Homo sapiens: one gene and its partner. The protein of the gene in region 1 purifies or fractionates together with the protein of each later gene. This does not show direct contact. Each region holds a gene or a part of one and is shown in the gene's direction. Other genes may lie near its edges.

Region 1 (9,694 bases):
AGCTATGATCACACCACTGCACTCCAGCCTGGGCAACAGAGCGAGACCCTGAGTTCAGGTGGTGCCAGGTGCTCTGAGGGGAGACGCAGACAGCGTGAGAGGTGGAGGTGGGTAGCTTTTGTGAAGTGCTTGGGGACAGTCTTTGCGATGGTGTCCTTGAAATCGAGACCTGAACAACAGGAAGGAGCTGCTATGAGCTGAGTCCAGGGCACAGAGTCTTGGAGACCAGCCTGTGCCCGGCCAGGCTGACACCGTTTTCGACAGGAGGCCCTGGGGCTTGTCACTGCAGCTTATCCACGATACTTAGGATGGGGACAGTGATGCATTGGCGTGGGATGCAGGGAATGCCTGAATCTGGCTGGAGTCTAAGGGGTGGAGGGGACACTGGTTGGGAGGCCCCGAGAAAGCGGCTCACGTCTCCAGCTTGAGGACCCTGTAGCCACCCTGTGGCTCCAGAGGTCTGGGCTCAGCGGGACCCTTGGACCACCTGTGCCACCAGGGAGGCCTCAGCCGGGTCCAGCTCCCAGCCTCAGCGGCTGATTCACACCTGCCTTGCTCCCGTGTCAGAGTCCATATCAGCAGACAGCTGGAGGTGGAGCCCGAGGAGCCGGAGGCGGAGAACAAGCACAAGCCCCGCAGGAAGTCAAAGCGGGGCAAGAAGGAGGCGGAGGACGAGCTGAGCGCCAGGCACCCGGCGGAGCTGGCGATGGAGCCCACCCCTGAGCTCCCGGCTGAGGTGCTCATGGTGGAGGTAGAGAACGTTGTCCACGAGGACTTCCAGGTCACGGAGGAGGTGAAAGTGAGTCCGTGCGTCACGCAGGGCGGCCACAGCTGCCTCCCCCACGGGCTCCCTTGAGCCGTTCCTGCGGCCTCTCCGAAGAGTCATCTCCCACCCTGAGCCCCTTAGGAAGGGTCTGGCCTGTCTGGAACTCAATTCTAATGGAACATAGAGGGTGCTTTTCCTCCCAGAGGTCTTCGGAAGACTCTGGGATGGGAGAGGCACAGGAAATTCGCTGGAGCCTGTAGCTGCTCAGGAAGGAGACAGGGTTGGAACCCAGGTCCAGCCCCAGCCCGTGTCCCCTGTGCCAAAGCCTCCAGCGGTTACCAAGACACCTTCCAGCCCTGGCTTCTTCCCACCAAGCCTGGGAGGTTGGTACCAGTGGTTGCAGGACAGGAAACAGCCTGTTGGCCACCCTGATCCCCCAACCTAGGCCGTCCTGCCTGCCTGGTGGCACAAGGAGTCAGCTTCCGAGGTGGGCAGGCTCTTGGCGGTGCCACCTGCCCTCCCGCTGTAGGGACAGTCAGCGAAGCTAACCAAAGGCCTGAAGCGTGTCAGCTCCTTACCTGTGTGCCTGGTGTCATCAGCCTCTTCCCCAGGCTGCTGCAGGGCCTAGGGGGAAGTGCTGTGAGCAACTGGTGATGTCTGCTGTGGGCGCTGGCAGGGGTGGAAAGTCCTGTCCACAGGCCCACCTGGGTTCTTGAGGTCAGCACTTCTATCCTGCCCCACTACCCCTGCGAGGTTTTTTTTTTTCTTTCTTTTTTTGAGACAGAGTCTGGCTCTGTCAACCCAGGCTGGAGTGCAATGGAACGATCTCAGCTCACTGCAATTTCCACCTCCCAGGTTCAAGTGATTCTCATGCCTCAGCCTCCCAAGTAACTGGGATTGCAGGCACGTGCCACCACACACGGCTAATTTTTGTATTTTTAGTAGAGACGAGGTTTTACCATGTTGGCCGGGCTAGTCTCAAACTCCTGACCTCGGGTGATCCGCCCACCTCAGCCTCCCAAAATGCTGGGATTATAGTCGTGAGCCACTGTGCCCGGCCACCTGTGAGTATTGAGCACTTGAAGTAGAGCTGCTGTGGCCAAGGAACAGAATGGAACATTTTATTGGCTGGGTACAGTGTCTCATGCCTGTCATCCCAACACTTTTGGAGGCCAAGGAAGGAGGATCACTTGAGCCCTGGAGTTCAAAACCAGCCTGGGCAATATTGAGACCCCTGTCTCCACAAAAAAAATAAAATCCCTGGGCATGGTCGCACACACCAGTGGTCTAACCTGTGGGAGGATCGCTTGAGCCCAGGAGATTGAGGCTGCAGTGAGCTGTGATCGCATCACTGCACTCCAGCCTGGGCAACAGAGTGAGACCCTGTATCTAAAAATTAAAATAAAAAAATTCAGGCCGGGCACGGTGGGCTCACGCCTGTAATCCCAGCACTTTGGGAGGCCGAGGTGGGCGGATCACCTGAGGTCAGGAGTTTGAGACCAGCCTGACCAACATGGAGAAACCCCGTGTCTACTAAAAATACAAAAAAAAATTAGCCAGGTGTGGTGGCTTATGCCTGTAATCCCAGCTACTCGGGATTACTGAGGCGGGAGAATTGCTTGAACCTGGGAGGCAGAGGTTGCGGTGAGCCGAGATTGCACTATTGCATTCCAGCCTGGGCAACAAGAGCAAAACTCTGTCTCAAAAAAAAAAAAAAAAAATTCAGACAGCCACCAGCGGCTACACTGTCCTGGGCAGCTCAGCATTGGGGCATTCCCTGTGAGAATCTTGCAACAGGGGGAAGACAGCGACCAAACTTACAAATGTGATTAGAACTGGCAAGACCCCTTAGGGGCAGCGAACTTGTTCTTTTTTTTTTTTTTTTTTTTTTTTTTTGAGATGGAGCCTCTGTCGCCCAGGCTGGAGTGCAGTGGCGTGATCTCGGCTCACCGCAAGCTCCACCTCCCGGGTTCACACCATTCTCCTGCCTCAGCCTCCCCAGTAGCTGGGACTACAGGTGCCCGCCACCACACCCGGCTAATTTTTTGTGTATTTTTTAGTAGAGACGGGGTTTCACCGTGTTAGCCAGGATGGTCTGGATCTCCTGACCTCGTGATCCGCCCGCCTTAGCATCCCAAAGTGCTGGGGTTACAGGCGTGAGCCACTGTGCCCAGCTGAACTTATTCTTAAAGCAAGTGCCCCGGACCTCCAGTGGGCCTGTTCTGGTGCCTTCTACCAGGGTCAGCTCAGACAGTTCAGCGTCAAAGCCAAAGACTAGAGACCAGGTGATTACGGTTTCTTTGGAGACAGAGTCTCACCCTGTCACTCAGACTGGAGTGCACTGGCGCAATCTTGGCTCATGGCAACCTCCGCCTCCTGGGTTCAAGTGATTCTCCTGCCTCGGCCTCCTTAGTAGCTGGGATTACAGTCACCCACCAAAGTACCTGGCTAATTTTTTTTTTTTTTTTGGTATTTTTAGTGGAGATGGGGTTTCACCGTGTTGGCCAGGCTGGTCTTGAGCTCCTGGCCTCAAGTGACCCACCTAACTCTGCCTCCCAAAGTGTTGGTGTTACAGGTGTGAGCCACCGCGCCCGGCCAAGACCAGGTGATTAAAATTTGGTTGTAGGCAGGTGCAGTTGCTTATGCCCGTGGTCCCAGCTACTCCGGAAAATGAGCGGGGAGGATCGCTTGAGCCCAAGAATTCAAGGCTGCAGTGAGTCATGATTGCAGCCCTGCACGCCAGCCTGGGTGACAGAGCAAGACTTGGTCTTTTTTTTTTTTTTTTTTTTTTGAGACAGAGTCTCGCTCTTTCGCCCAGGTTGGAGTGCAGTGGCGCGATCTCGGCTCACTGCAAGCTCCATCTCCTGGGTTCACGCCATTCTCCTGCCTCAGCCTCCCGAGTAGCTGGGACTACAGGCGCCCGCCATCACGCCCGCCTAATTTTTGTATTTTTTGGTAGAGACGGGGTTTCACTGTGTTAGCCAGGAGGGTCTCGATCTCCTGACCTCATGATCCACCCGCCTCGGCCTCCCAAAGTGCTTGGATTACAGGCGTGAGCCACCACGCCCGGCCAAGACTTGGTCTCTTAAAAAATGGAGGAAAGAAAACACAGTCTCTTTTTTTCCCCTGAGATAGCTTATCCTAAGGACAAGGCTCTGAGGGGTAAGGAGACAGGGTTTGGTTTTAGTTTTGACTCTCTTGGTCCTGTGTCCCTGGGACTGGTGAGTCCACCAGGGACTGCACTCCTCCATCTCCCAGGCCGTCCGTGGCCAGGGCCAGTTGGCGGAGGGGAGGGAGTTGATGGAGCTGGTGGGTGGGGCTCCCAGGGCCATGCTCCCACCCAGCCCACCCCCTGCTGGAGCACTGCTGGGCCCCAGCGACCCTGCCCCATACTTGGCAGGCCCTGACTGCAGAGATCGTGAAGACCATCCGGGACATCATTGCCTTGAACCCTCTCTACAGGTGGGCCTCTGTGCGGGCAGCTGGCCAGGCGGGGGCATCTCTGCAGCTCTTTCTGCAGCTGGGTGGGTAGGGGGCTTCCTCAGCGTCCTCCTGGGAGGAAACCTTGCCTGCCCCAAGGAGTGGCCTGTGTGGAGGAGCCCGTTGCCCACTGGGGCATGGGGCAGGTGGGAGGCCCGGGGCCGACTCAGCAGGCCCAGTTTCTTTGTCCCCTTCTGCTGAGGCCGGAAGCTGTTGGTGGCATTGGCTGGGGGAGTGGGGAGCAGACTGCTGAGGTGAGGTCACTGCACGGCTCCCGTGGTGGCTGCACGTGAGGATGCTGCATGCCTTTCCAGCCCAGGACGGGTGGGCCCTGAACTCTGGAGAACAAGCAGCAGAGCTGGCTCCCAGCGAGCACCCCTAGACCGTGCCCATAGCTACAGGGGACAGGGACCCTGAGGACCGGGTCCCCGTTTGGGGGCTGCACTGCAGCAGAGCGTGAGGCCCTGGCCACCGAGGCAGCTCCCTTTGTCCCCCAGGGAGTCAGTGCTGCAGATGATGCAGGCTGGCCAGCGGGTGGTGGACAACCCCATCTACCTGAGCGACATGGGCGCCGCGCTCACCGGGGCCGAGTCCCATGAGCTGCAGGACGTCCTGGAAGAGACCAATGTGAGTGCTCGTCACCTCCACAGCCCCCCACGCCTGGCTGCACCCCACCTCCACTATGCTCCGCCCACGCCCGGCTGCCCCCGTTCCTCCTCAGCTCCCCCATGCCTGGCTGCCCTTGTCCCTCCACCGTGCACCATCCACACCCAGCTGTGTGTCCCTGGCTCTGTTTTTGAGATGATTTCCCGCTGCGTGTCTTGGTCCACATCCATCCGCCTTTCGGTGGCTTCATAGCCTTCGGTTGGGAGTCACCGTTGCGGGTTCAGTGGGATCCTCTGGGCCGTGTACCCGGGGCGTTGCCAGTCTTTTGCTGTTGTGAGCAGCACTCCTGAGCGCGTCCCCATGCACGCAGCTGGAGGGCCTGTGAAGTATCCGTAGGATGCGTTTCCAGCACGGGATTTGTTGGGGCAGAGGGCACACATGCCTCTGTGCTGGGTACAGCATGGCCAGGTCCTCCCGGCAGCATCTCTCAGGGTGCGCATTTTCCCCCAACCTCGGCCCTACACACACAGATGCCGACTTCTGCTCATCCTTTCTGTCCTCCCTGTCTCGGCAGATTCCTAAGCGGCTGTACAAGGCCCTCTCCCTGCTGAAGAAGGAATTTGAACTGAGCAAGCTGCAGCAGCGCCTGGGGCGGGAGGTGAGCCCGCGGCTGAGGCGCAGCCACTCTTGGGGGCCTTCCCCTCGGGCCACGTGACATCAGTCAGGCTCTGGAGCACACGGAGGGACCGGTGGCATCGGCCAGGGCAAGCCAAGAAGGCCTGTCTGGGTTTTGAGGGCTTCGTGCCATCATCTGCTCTGTCGTCCTGGGCTGTGGAACTCTCCGCGTTGAACAGGGAAGCTTAAAGCTGGTCCCAGTGTAATGAGCCCAGGGTGGAGCAGTCTCAGGACCGTCCAACATTAAGGGAAGAATTCCTTTGCCTTTGTAATCTTGGGGACAGTGTTGGAAATTGGAAAGCAGCCTGGGAAAAGTGAAGATGCTGTTTCTTAAGACCCAGCCATTGAGGCTCGCTGTCATGATTTTCGGCAGATCACAGCCTGCCTGATGGCCGGTCACCTCACGGTCGTAGCATTTTTCAGAATTTTTTACTTTAAGACAGGGTCTCAGTCGGCCACCTAGGCTGGAGTGCAATGGCGCAATCTCAGCTCACTACAGCCTCCACCTCCAGGGCTCAAGTGATCCTCCCACCTCAGCCTCCCGAGTAGCTGGGATTACAGGCGTGCAATACCACACCGGCTAATTTTTGTATTTTAGTAGAGACAGGGTTTCACCATGTTGGCCAGGCTGGTCTTGAACTCCTGGCCTCAAGTGATCCGCCCGCTTCAGCCTCCCAAAGTGCTAGGATTACAGGCGTGAGCCACCGCGCCTGGCCCCATCTCTACAAAAAATTTTAAAATTAGAGCCAGGTGTGGCAGGTGCCTGTGGTCCCAGTTACTCAGGAGGCTAAGGCAGGAGGATCGCTTGAGCCCAGGAGGTGGAGGCTACGGTGAGCTATGATGGTGCCTTTGCACTCCAGCCTGGGTAACACAGGTAGACCCTGTCTCAAAAACAAAAGAAGATGGAAGGAACCAAAGGCTTCGTGCTCTGGGTTTCGTTTCTTTTCTCTCTGAGTCCTGGGGGAGCAGAGGGTCCCCCTTCGTCTGGGGACGCACCCACCCACCCAGCTTCCCGGAGCCAGGGCCTGATGGCAGCACCTCACCCCACAGGTGGAGGAGAAGATCAAGCAGACCCACCGTAAGTACCTGCTGCAGGAGCAGCTAAAGATCATCAAGAAGGAGCTGGGCCTGGAGAAGGACGACAAGGATGCCATCGAGGAGAAGTTCCGGGAGCGCCTGAAGGAGCTCGTGGTCCCCAAGCACGTCATGGATGTTGTGGACGAGGAGCTGAGCAAGCTGGGCCTGCTGGACAACCACTCCTCGGAGTTCAAGTGAGTGCCAGGCCCGGGGCGGCCCAGCCCTCAGGTGACCCCTCCTCAGCCCCCATCTTAGGCAGGCCAGGGGACCCAGCGGGGAGCCCCGTGGCACCTTCTTGGTGTGGCAGGTGCGGGCTGGGAGGCATCCAGCGAGTATCAGCCCTGTTCTGGGCAGGACACATCATCACCATCTCCATTCTACAAGGAAATCGAGGCTCGGGGCTGTTGAGCTGGTGGCCAGGGCCTGTGAATTGGCAGGTGGTGCCACGGATTTGAGCCCAGGGACGCCTGGCTCTAAGCCAGGGCTGCTTTTTTTTTTTTTTTTTTTTGAAATGGAGTCTCGCTCAGTTGTCCAGACTGGAGTGCAGTGGCACAATCTTGGCTCACTGCAACTTCCGCTTTGCGGGTTCAAGCAATTCTCCTGCTTCAGTCCCCCAAGTATCTGGGACTATAGGCATGCACCACCACGCCTGGTTAATTTTTTGTATTTTTAGGAGACATGGGGTTTCACCATGTTGTTCAGGCTGGTCTCGAACTCCTGACCTCAAATGATCCGGCTGCCTTGACCTGCCAAAGTGCTAGGATTACAGGCGCGAGCCACCATGCCTGGCTTTTTTTTTTTTTTAAGACAGAGTCTTGCTCTGTTGTCCAGGCTGGAGTACAGTGGTGCAATGTTGGTTCACTGCAACCTCCACCTCCCAGGTTGAAACGATTCTACTGCCTCAACTTCCTGAGTAGCTGGGATTACAGGCATGTGCCACCACACCCAGCTAATTTTTAGTATTTTTAGTAGAGATGGGGTTTTGCCATGTTGGCCAGGTTGGTCTCAAACTCCTGACCTCAAGGGATCCGCCCACCTTGCCCTCCCAAAGTGCTGGGATTACAGGCATGAGCCACCACGCCTGGCCTAAGCCAGGCCTTCTCGCCAGGACCAGGAGTCCCCATGGCTGTCTTTGCAAGGCTACCCCTGGCTTCTGTTGCCCCTTCGAGAGTCAGCCAGGAAGTGACCATGCCTTCCCGCAGCACTGGCCTTGCCCGGGGGCCACTGTCCTGAGCATGCCATGAGTCAGGGTGGCCGCCCCAGGTTTGAGGGCCTCAGGTACCTCTGAGATCCTTTCAGCCATGCCCATGTCCAGCCAGGACAGAACCCACCTGGCCACTTCCCATGCAGCATGCTCTGTTTTCAGCCCAGGAACCAGTTGTCACGCCAGGGCAGCTTCTAGGCAGAAGTCCCCGGGGCAGGGCTGGGCAGGCCGTAGGACAGCGCTTAGAGGGAAGGCATGAGTTTCTTTCCTGGCTGCTGGCCCAGGACCCCGCCTCAGATTTGAATGTCACGGTCGCCGGAGTCTCTCCCCCAGGGCCCTGAGAGGCACTGGTTGCGCGCGAAGGCTGTGGCTTCCCCTCCCAGCACGCCCCGATTTCGGTGAGTGGCCTGTGAGCTCCCATGGCTGCTCCGACGGTGCCACAACTTAGTGCCTTACACAATGCCGAGCCCTGAGATCCCGCTGTGGGCCGGGCCCGTCCCTCCCAGAGGCTCCAGAGGAGAATCCGTTTCCTGCCTTTCCCAGTATCTGGAGGCGCCCGCATCCCTCGGCTCGGGGCCCCTTCCTCCTTCACAGCCACAGCGCAGCCTCTTCCAGTCAGTCTCTCACCTCCCACCGCCTGTCGTGAGGACCTGGTGAGGAACCTGGGCCCCCTGGGTCACCCAGAATGCTCTCCTGTCTCGGGGACCTTCACTCAGCCCCATCTGCAGTTCCCTGCTGCCATGTGAGAGGCCTGTGCCGCCGCCTCCTGTGGGGGGAGAACGTAGATGTTTTCGGGGTTCTTCTGTCTCCCAGCGAGTGCCTCAGCTGCCCTTGGGCTGGTGGAAGTACCTGCTCAGACCGGGCCTTGTCCTGCAGAAGCAGATAGCTCCTTCCCCCAGGAGCTGAGGGGGTCTGTAAGGCGGGTTCTGTCCTCAGGTCCTGGGAAGTCACGGGGGACAAGCCCTCAGTACCTGCGTGTCACCAAGATGCCTGCAGCAGGCTGCCAGCTACCTCTCCCACCCAGAATGCTCTCCGCAAAGTGTCACTGCCTGTGTCACTTCCACAGTGACTTCATGTGTCTCTAAACTCCAGCATCCGTGTGGCCCAGCTGGCCTGTCCCGGTGCGTCTCGTATGCCCGTTGGGTGGCAGTGCGCCCTGACGGTGTCTGCTCGTGGGGCCGCCTGGCCCTTCCTCGGAAGCCGTCCTCCTCTTCATCCTCTTCCCCAATCCTGCCGTGTGCTCTTGCAGCCCTCACTGACTTGCTCCTGGCCCATAGTGGCCGCTGCTCACTGCTGCACGGCTCCCAACTTGGGGACCAATATGGAGTTGCCCTCCCAACCTTCAGCGTCACTCTCCCGGCAGGGGACCTGGCCTCCATTTCCCCACCTGCCCTGGGTCAGGCCTTGTCCCATTTTCTAAGCCTCGTCCCCTCTGTGGTTCTGCTCACTCAGCCCTGGGCAGAAGCCAGTGCCGTCTTGGCTCTCCTGATGAGTCAGCAGTGGACCTCCGGCCATCTCCTCCTTCCTGCACTGGGTGCTTTGGACAGGGCAGTTTGTAAATTTTTTTTTTTTTTTTTTTTTGAGATGGAGTCTCACTCTGTTGCCCAGGCTGGAGTGCAGTGGCACGATCTCGGCTCACTGCAAGCTCCGCCTCTCGGGTTCATGCCATTCTCCTGCCTCAGCCTCCCGAGTAGCTGGAACTACAGGTGTCCGCTGCCACGCCCAGCTAATTTTTTTTTTTTTTTTTATTGATCATTCTTGGGTGTTTCTCGCAGAGGGGGATTTGGCAGGGTCATAGGACAATAGTGGAGGGAGGGTCAGCAGATAAACAAGTGAACAAGGGTCTCTGGTTTTCCTAGGCAGAGGACCCTGCGGCCTTCCGCAGT
Region 2 (9,694 bases), on another chromosome or scaffold:
ATATGGTCATCCAGATTTCTACTTTACAACTGAGAAAAAGCTGCAGCTTTCTACAGAACAGAGTATAAATATGAGGAAAATGGTGAAAGGGAGTGATAGAATTGAAGAAAATGATGATGATGTGATAATGAAGAAAGGAAATGTTTATCAGATATTTACTATGGACCATCACTGAGCTAAACACTTTACATATATTATCCCATTAATTGTCATCATAATCCTTTCAGATATTGTCTTTATTCTATAGGCATACAAGGTCATAGAGAAGTTAAGTGACTTGCCCAAGATCTTACAGTTAGTAAGAAATTCTGGATAGGTACTTTGATTTCAGAAATTAAGGCTCTTTATCATGAGGAAAGAAGCAATGGTAGTAAATGGGATTGAGAGTAGGTAGTTAATACACGTGACAACCAGCTGTTACCCCTACAGAAATTTTATTATTTAAATTTAGTCAGTTAACGAGACTGTACTTGCTGCTGTTGAAGAGTATGTGAAGACTAATAACTTGTTTTTATTTTTAAAAATCTAAGTATAATTTTTATTTTATAGAATATTATGCTAAGGAAGCTATGATAGAATTTTTTTTTTTTTTTTTTTTTTTTTTTTGAGACAGGATCTCGCTCTGTTGCCCAGGCTGGATTGCAGTGAGGCAATTATAGCTCACTGTAACCTCTGACTCCTGGGCTCAAGCGATCTCCCACCTCAGCTTCCTGATTAGCTAGTACTACAGGCGTGTACCACCACACCCAAGTAATCTTTTAAAATTTTTCGTAGAGATAACATTTTGCTGTGTTGTCCAGGTTGTTCTGAAACTCCTGGGTTCAGATGATCCTCCCGCTTTGGCCTTCCAAAGTGTTGGGATTACAGGCATGAACCACTGCACCTGGCCAAAATTGGTCTTTTTTACAAGCCTTTTTTGTGTGCCCTAAATGAGACCCAGAAGCCACAAGAAGCCTTGTTGAACCTCATTCTGGTTGCTTGATAATCATTCAAAACCTAGGGTTTTGTGTGGCTTTTGGGAGATAAGCTGCTGGACTCTTTATTCACAGTTAGACATTATATGAATAAGGAGTTGGACAGCTGAGTATTAAGTGTCCAGAGAGCAAGAGACTATGGCAAAAAAGAGACATGAACAGATTCAGGAGTCCCAGGATTTGCAATGTAAGTCTGGGCTTTGTTTTTTGTCTATGTAAAATGAAGAGATGTAATTATCACTGCCTGCTCCTCAGTTCTTTCCAATTGTAAAATTTGTGATGTATTCATTTATTCTGCAGATAGCTACCGATCTGCAGTAGATACTTCCTTCAGTGTCCAGTACTGTTTGGTATGAATGCGTGGAAACTAAGATGTGCGTTTCTATTTTTATCTTAGTTTTTTGAACCAGTGTTTTTGTTATTATAATTGGTTATTTTATGTATGATACCTTGTATATTGTTTAAAATTTTAGATATGCTTTGAATTATGTGGCAAAACTTTAAGACTTTAAGTGGCTTTTTTTTTTTGAGACCGAGTCTCGCTCTGTCGCCCAGGCTGGAGTGCAGTGGCGCAGTCTCAGCTCACTGCAACCTCCACCTCCCGGGTTCAGTTGATTCTCCTGCCTCAGCCTCCCAAGTAGTTGGGATTACAGGTGCACACCACCACGCTCAGCTAATTTTTTTGTTTGATTTGTGGCATTTGTATGCAATATTTTCTTTTTTAAAAATGTCTATTTATTTTTATTTTTGTAGAGACAGGGTCTCACTATGTTGCCCAGGCTGGTCTCTCACTCCTGGGCTCAAGTGATCTTCCCACCTCAGCCTCCCAAAGTGCTGAGATTACAGGCATGCACCACTGCTCCCAGGTGAATCCAACTGTTTTCAACAAGTTTTCACTGCTTACAGTATCTCATCTCTGCTGTTGCAAATCCTGTAAGGATTGGGACAAGATATAAATATCAAATAAAGCAAGTCTGTGCCAGTCCTTTAAAGATTGCTTAGTTAGAATTTTGTGGCAAGGTTTAACACGTAAACATTAAGTCTAGAACCAAATGTTAAAGAAAGGAAGATAACATTTATTTAATATTATTATATGCTGTGTTAGTTGCTTTATATTGATGCTTGAAGATAGATGGTATTACTGAGGTTTGTAGAGGTTAAAACTAGTAAGTGATAAGAGTTGGGATTCAGTTTCTTGTCTTTTGGATTTCAAAACAGACATTATGCTCTGTATATTGTCTATGGAAGAAGTAATGTCATGAAAAATGAAAGATTAAATTATGTTTCAGATTTTGGTGAAATCAGATATTAAATGGCCGAAAGTTTCCTGATTATATGTTAATTTATCCCTCATCTATTTGGAGGACTAGGGACAATGCTCCCATTTTAAGTCTAAAATTCTTAATGGCTTTAGGGTTTGAGTTACTTTCAGAGCTTTACTTTTACTTTTCTTCTGAGTTCTTGAGACTTTTAAAACTTTGCATTTATTGTGGCACATTTTTGTTTTACTTAGTAAACTTATTTTAAAAATATTTGCTTGTGCCTACTATGTGACAGGCATTGTGCTAAAGGCCTTTGCCATGACCTGATTAATTAAGGATATAGATTCTTTTTTTATTTTTTATTTTTTTTACTCTCAGGATATGCTTAAGGATATATATTATTAAAACATCATTTTTTAATTACCCAAAATATTATAAACATTGCTCTGACCCTTATTTATTAGTCTCTTGATTTCTCTAAACTTTCACTTTCATTTCTTCAGAGCCAAATCACTCTCTTACCACCCCGTAATGAGTAGCTCTTGATACTGTAAAGAGACCACATCCATTTTACTTCTGTCTGCATCTTGTGGAATATTATATCAACAATAAGAAATTTTATTCATAATTAATAAGTTTAGCTTGGCCTCAGTTATAGTATGGTTTATTGTTTATCCTTCTGTATTTGAAGCAAACATAAATAGAGAGGACGTAAATTTAATAATTTATACAGTATGCTCCAGTCCCTGACTGTTTACTTCAGCCAGTACTGCTTTCTCCTAGGCCTTTGCTCATGTGTTCTTCCCACTATGCAGTTTCCATAAATAACTTCCTGTTTTGTTTTTTAATGTCTACTTACTCTTTGTTTCAGTACACGTATCATATGTGGGACCGTCTTTGCTTTCTGTCTTTCCAGTTCGTCCACTCTGACACAGCATGTGTCAGAATCTCTTCCTTATTTTCATAACACCCTAGATATCCCTGTCATTGCTCTTACTGCATTAACTTTTTTATTTGATACGTTTTTGTCATGAGAATGAGCTTCTGCAAGGAATTATCATTTCTTTTTTATCTTTATATTTTCATTGTGTAGCACAATATTGGCAAACAGTAGAAGTCTGGTACATATTTGATGAATGCACAATAAATGGCATTGATTTTTATGTTTATCATTTTAAAAACTTTAGAATACAGCTTCTAATTGTTTTGCTTATCATACAATATTTATTTCAGGACTGTATTATTCTTGTGAAAGACTCATAGGTAGATTTTCTCTTAAAATTGTGAAAAAGTTGTCAGAAGACATATTTATATAATGATATTCAAAGGCCATGCCATGGTGAGATTTTTTTTCCCCTAATCTCCACTGTTCCTCCCCCTCTTAGGATACAGATCTTATGAATGAGACAGAGTAAAGGGCTTTAAGTTGGATAAAGATTAAGATTCCCTGCTGGTTAATAATTATCAGAATCTGGATGATTATTTATTTGGATGAAACGATGCATACATTGTGTGCATCAAAAGTAAAGCATATGTGATTGTTAGAGGAATGTTTGAATTCCCCAGTGGGATGTCATGGGGTATGTTTATAAACTCCCACTAAGCAGTAGTTCTACAATGGAATTTCTCTGGCATTGAGATAATAATTTGCACAGTCAAATTACCTTCTTTACAAAACCCCAAGGAATCATAAGGGCCTAATCCTTTATTAATGTCAACCCACAGGCTGCAAGAAAGCGTAAGATTGCCATTCGAAAAGCCCAGGGGAAAAATGTGGAGGCCATTCGGGAGCTGAATGAGTATCTGGAACAGTGAGTATTTTACAAGAGGATTGTGTTTTGTTATTCTGATAAATCTTTTTTAATTAAAATGGAATTTGCATTTGATTTTCCTGTTTGTTTTCATGCTGTTCATTTACAGAATATCTACACACTTACTTTTTTTTCTTTTCCTCTCACCAGATTTGTTGGAGACCAAGAAGCCTGGCATGAACTTGCAGAACTTTACATCAATGAACATGAGTAAGTTATTAAACACACAACATTTTGTTGAGTGCAGTTTTCATCACTGTAAGTTCAGAAAGCACTGTGGTTTCCAAAGGATTGGTGAGAGGGTGTGAATCATGTCATTTGAAATGAGAAACAGAACAAATCAACAATTAAATGAAAAAGAACAAATCAGTAATTCACTGGTCATAATAAGTGAATAGCTTTAACTAGGTCATTTGTGTTTTGCCAAATTGTTTATGTTTAGGAAATAAGTTTTTCTTTCAAATATAGATGGCATTCTTTGGAAATAAAAAGGCCTGCATTTGCTAAGCTAAGTTTATTTTTGGTAAATCAAAATTGTGAATTTTTAGAGTTCAGATTGTTCTTATATACAAAGAGTATTATACTCCCTGCTGTTTAAAAATTCTGTCAATTGTATGCATGTATTAGCCTTAGTACTAAGAGAATCAACTCTTCCAAAGTAGAAGCATTCTGTTGCCTGGGTAAAAAACTGAGAATAATCAAGAATGTTGAATGCTCTAGGATCTTGCTTATTGGATGTTTAATGTTTTTGTTAGCTTTTTTATTGCTGTAGTGACAGGAGGAAATCCCAGTGTGAGAGGATTAGTCCAGAGTCTTAGTGCAAGTTTTCTAATATTACAGCATTAATGCTAACCTCCATCTAGAGGCGTGTTTTTTATTTTTTTTCTTAGTTCTTCTAAATCTGAAGTATATGACATTGTTTCTTTTCCTTCTTTTTGACAGAATAGAATCAGATTCTCATGCGCATTTTCTTGTGCATGAATATTTAACCTTGTTCTCATACTACAAACAACTGATGAGAAACAGAATGAAGACATTTGTCTATTGTCTGTGGTCTATATATATAATGTGATCTAGAGGATTGAGGTAGTCTATTTGCATAAGTCTAAGGAAAGTGGGAGCTAAAATAAAAGTAATAGCTGTAATTTAATGAATGTATACTATATTCTAGGAACTGTTTTTCAAGTTCTCTGCTATACTCTGAAACAGATATTCTGGTTTTGATTAGGAAATTATTTCCTGAATCACATTCAGTATAGATGATATGCTTGTATGTACACATATGTAAACATACTCATGATTTCTTACACATGTGAAACAGTATATAATACTTATATTTAAATACATGAAATTGAATTTTTAGAGTATAGTAAAAATAATTAGCATTAATTTTATTTTGTTTCTAAAACAGGTGACAGTCATTTAACATTTTTTGTACTTTCTAAAGATTTTCTGACTAAAAGCATTTTAAAACATTTCAAATCAACAAGGAAATTTTTTTTTTCAAGTTAAAGGAATACCTAATGCAGAAAATTTGAGAAACACAGTAAAGCATAAAGACCAAGACAAAAATTACATGTAATTCCAGCATCCTAAGTTAACTATAGTTTGTTTGGTTTTTGTCCTTCCTTATCTTTTAAAATAAAAGCCCAAAATAAAATTATCTTCCGTAGTTTATACTTTCCCTTAGTTATATTTTGTTCAAAAATTTCTTGTCACTGTAACAATCTACAGTGTGTTTTGAATGGCTTTATATTATTTCATCTTACTAATTTACCCTAGTATTTTTAACGAGTTTCCTAGGGAGATATAAAGGTTGTTTTATATTTTTATATATAATGCTGTAGTGATCATTTTTATTTTGTTTCCTTGGGTTAAATTCTTTGAAGTAAAATTGCTTGATTAAATAAGATGTACATTTTCTGTGGTTTTGATAAATAGTTCCTGATTGTTCCCTAGAATGGTAACATCAATTTACTTGCACACCAGCATTTACTAGAGTCCCTCTTTAACAACACTGGATACTATGATTCTTTTTTAATCTTTACAAGTTTGATAGGTGAAATTGGTTCTACCTTTTTAGTTCATTTTTACGAGCTCTTTTTATAAAGGAGAGCAACCATTTGTCAAAAGTATATCCTTGTTATATGCTTTTTAAATACTGACTTCTTAAAATTATAGAAACTTTACATTTTTAGAAAATCAGATTCATCAATTTTTAACATTATCATGTCTGCTGTCCTTTAATAGCTTAAAAATATATCACCTTTTCCCCCTACTTCATTTGCAATTTTATTTTTTTGCATGTATTTCTAATATTTATTTCATCATCAAATTTAGGTTATACCTTATTTTTAACCTACCATTAAATTTACTTATTTTTTTCACCATGTGGTACCACCTTCAGTTTTGCTTTGTTTGGAATCTAAAGAGTTTATTGAAACAGAGGTGAATGTACACTTAAGAGAAATGAACTGAGAAATCTCAAAAAATGAAGATTTACAAAGATGTAGGAGCACCTAAAAATATTTTTTTAGAGAAAATGATAATTATGGTCAGCCTACCCTTTTATCTAGTATCACAAAACTCTTTTTGGTCTTAAAGCTAGTTAGTTACAAAATGACCATTTTTTTTTTCTAATTGAACACTTAGAAGGAATATTTATGTTTAGGTGACTGGAAATGCATATCTACAGGTTTTTTTGAAACTGTGAAAATTACAATCAGTTCACTTGATTCATTTGACATGTTTGAGCAAGTCATTATAGGAGGCAGGAATTTTTTGATGGAATGTTAAATTATCGTAGGATATCAGTTTTAGCACCAGTCTTGGGGACACAGTGGCAAAAACGTAGCAGTTTCGAAAATGTCAGATATATTTAACATTCGATATTCCTTTCTGCATATGAACAGTTGTAAGCTTTTTTAAGTATAATAGGTCGCAGGCAGCTTTGGTAGCCTATATCTAGAACTATTTTTTTTCTTTAAGAGACAGAGTCTACAACATTTCCCAGGCTAGACTTGAGCTCCTGGGCTAAAGTACTCTTCCCACCTCAGCCTTTTGTGTAGCTGGCACTACAGGTGTGTCACTGTGCCCAGCTCTGGAATTTTTAAACTCCAAATAAATATCTATAGTATAATTTTCATATAGCCCTATTTAATGTTTCTATAGAGAGAAAAAGGGATATAGAATTGTGCCATGTAACCTTTTTATATTTTTAAGTTACTTTTATAAGTTTGTTTCTGATTTATAGTTTGTTTTTAGTTATTCCAGGGATATATGTTACATCCATTGACCATATTGAGACACTTGTTCTAAAGTTTTAAAACTACAGTTAATTTTTTTGTGTCAGCACTACCAATATGTATTATAGGTTAAGTATCCATAACCTGAAAATCTGAAATCCACAATACTCCAAAATCTGAAACTTTGAGTGCCAACATGATGCTCAAAGGAAATGCTCATTGGAGCATTTTGGATTTGGGATTTTTGCGTTAGGGATGTTCAACCAGTAAGAATGCAGATATTTTAAAATCTGAAAACTTCTGAAATCTGAAACATTTCTGGTCCCAAGCATTTTGGTTAAGGGATACCCAACCTTTGTAAGCAAAAATACATTCACATTATGAAAGACAAATTTTTTTACTTCATTTGTTATTGAAACTAGATACTATACAGCAAGGAACAGTTAGTATTATACATTAATTATGATTGTGATTATAGTTCCTTTTCATAAGTCCAGCCTTTTAAAATTCCATATCAACGGAATTACCACAATTCTTTAAGGAAAAATTGTGATGTTGGTAAAGTAACACACAGTACCAAATACTGTAACCTTTAGTTATATATACTTTTGTAAGGAAGAGAAGAAAACTTTATTTAGTTCTAGTACTGACTCTAATATTGTAATAACAATTGTTATTCTGTTTTAAGTAGATTCAAATTATTTTTACTTCTCTATTCTTAGTCTTGTTGAGTCACTGTGTGTAATGAATTAACTTCTCTATGCACCTAGAATAGTACTGGCTATGTATTATCCCTGACAAGACTGAGGAAATAGTCACTTTCTGCGTGGCCTAACAATGGCCTAGAAAAGCTGGACTAGACCATCTGTTGAGCTCCTTCTAGCTCTAATTTTATTTAATTCTATATTTTATCCACAAAATTAGTTTGATACTGTACTTTATAAAATTGGGGGAAGGAGTCCTTTTCTCATATGTGATGCTAATTGATTTTTGAGAAAATATCTTGGTATTCATTTTACCCTAAGAGCTGCTACTACCTGCCCATTTTATCTTGCTTTATGCACCAGTGTCACAGTTGTGCTCAACCCATTTAAATGTCTAAGAACTTTTATTCTTAGTCTCAATATGAATTTTTGGCATCATACTATTAATAATTAAAGGAACACATTTAGAAGAGAACTGTCTTTTGATAAAGTGTTTAAGGTAGAGACAAATTTTCCCTTTTCTTTTCGAGTGATAAATATATATTAGGTAGGTAGTCATAACACATTTGTTTTAGACATTTATTCAATCATTTGTTCAGTCTTATTAAATACCTATCATGTGTCAAGAACCAATGCTAGGTTTTGAATTTAAAAATGGAAAGGGCTAAATAGCTGCATGATCTTGGATGAGAGTACACACACACACACACACACACATACATATATATATGTGGTCCTTCATAAATCTAAAATGCTGTAATTATTAGGTAATCTGCAGGGTGTATTTTTTTTCCTCAGTCCCTTTGGGTGTGACTGCTGTACACATTTTCATGTTACCATTGACATCTTCAGTTTTTCAATGTGATGTGTAATGCATATAAGCAGCATATGTAGTGGTTGAAGAGTACAGGCTGTCTGGAGTGGCACAGCCTGGGATTCAGTTTACATCTCTGTGCCTCAGTATTCTCAGCTCTAGCATGTTGATAATAATTTCCTTCTTCCTAGGGTTTTGGTAGGATTAAATGAGTTAATACATGTAACACATTTAGAACAATGCATGACACGTAATAAGCATTTAGTAAAAGCTATTATTAGTATACATGTGTGAAACAGGAAAATAATTTTTAAAAGTATATCAGGCAGTAGTGTAAAGGTAGATCCCTTTGTATACTGGTAAATGCCAAAAATAACTTTAGGTAGCCTCTTTTTGTTGGGTAGTGTCATCACTTCCTCACTGGGAAGAAATCTTGTAACACCTGTGTTCATTAGAATTTCCTGTAGATAGTGAGGATAGTCACATGGCATTAAACGTTTAAAATATATTTAGTGAATTACAGTCACATGCTTTAAAATGTTTTTCCAGAGCTCTTTCTGGCAGTTCTCTTTCCTTAGGTTTTCAGCAAGATTTTTGTTTATTCTACCACAAGATTAAATAATAGTACAGTATATATCAAAACCAACTTGATCTGTTTTTCATGGGCTTAGAAATTTATAACTTCATTATAATTTGGTATTTGACAGTGAACTTAAGTAATGAGAGAAATCTTTGTAATAGAATATGTTGGTAAATATATGCCTGTGAAGAATTTTTAGTGAGTAGAGAATATTTAATAAAATGTTTATTTTCTCCTTACACATTAGCTGTTTGAATATTTTTTTAAATGATCAGTCAACTTCCAGAAGTTGTTTTATATACAG

Evidence for each region.
Region 2: the proteins of LONP1 (region 1) and EMC2 purify together in Homo sapiens (affinity purification with mass spectrometry; 2 studies listed by BioGRID, with this or other methods). This does not show direct contact.

Annotation. Positions count from the first base shown.
Region 1 is NC_000019.10:5,702,876-5,712,569, reverse strand, and holds part of LONP1 (lon protease homolog, mitochondrial isoform 1 precursor), read left to right. Parts: intron 1-567; coding exon 568-799; intron 800-4,166; coding exon 4,167-4,228; intron 4,229-4,743; coding exon 4,744-4,873; intron 4,874-5,426; coding exon 5,427-5,510; intron 5,511-6,577; coding exon 6,578-6,798; intron 6,799-8,351; coding exon of another isoform or gene 8,352-8,454; exon of another isoform or gene 8,455-8,839; intron 8,840-9,694. UniProt on the Homo sapiens protein: ATP-dependent serine protease that mediates the selective degradation of misfolded, unassembled or oxidatively damaged polypeptides as well as certain short-lived regulatory proteins in the mitochondrial matrix.
Region 2 is NC_000008.11:108,465,865-108,475,558, forward strand, and holds part of EMC2 (ER membrane protein complex subunit 2), read left to right. Parts: intron 1-3,961; coding exon 3,962-4,047; intron 4,048-4,197; coding exon 4,198-4,257; intron 4,258-4,989; coding exon of another isoform or gene 4,990-5,119; exon of another isoform or gene 5,120-5,299; intron 5,300-9,694. UniProt on the Homo sapiens protein: Part of the endoplasmic reticulum membrane protein complex (EMC) that enables the energy-independent insertion into endoplasmic reticulum membranes of newly synthesized membrane proteins.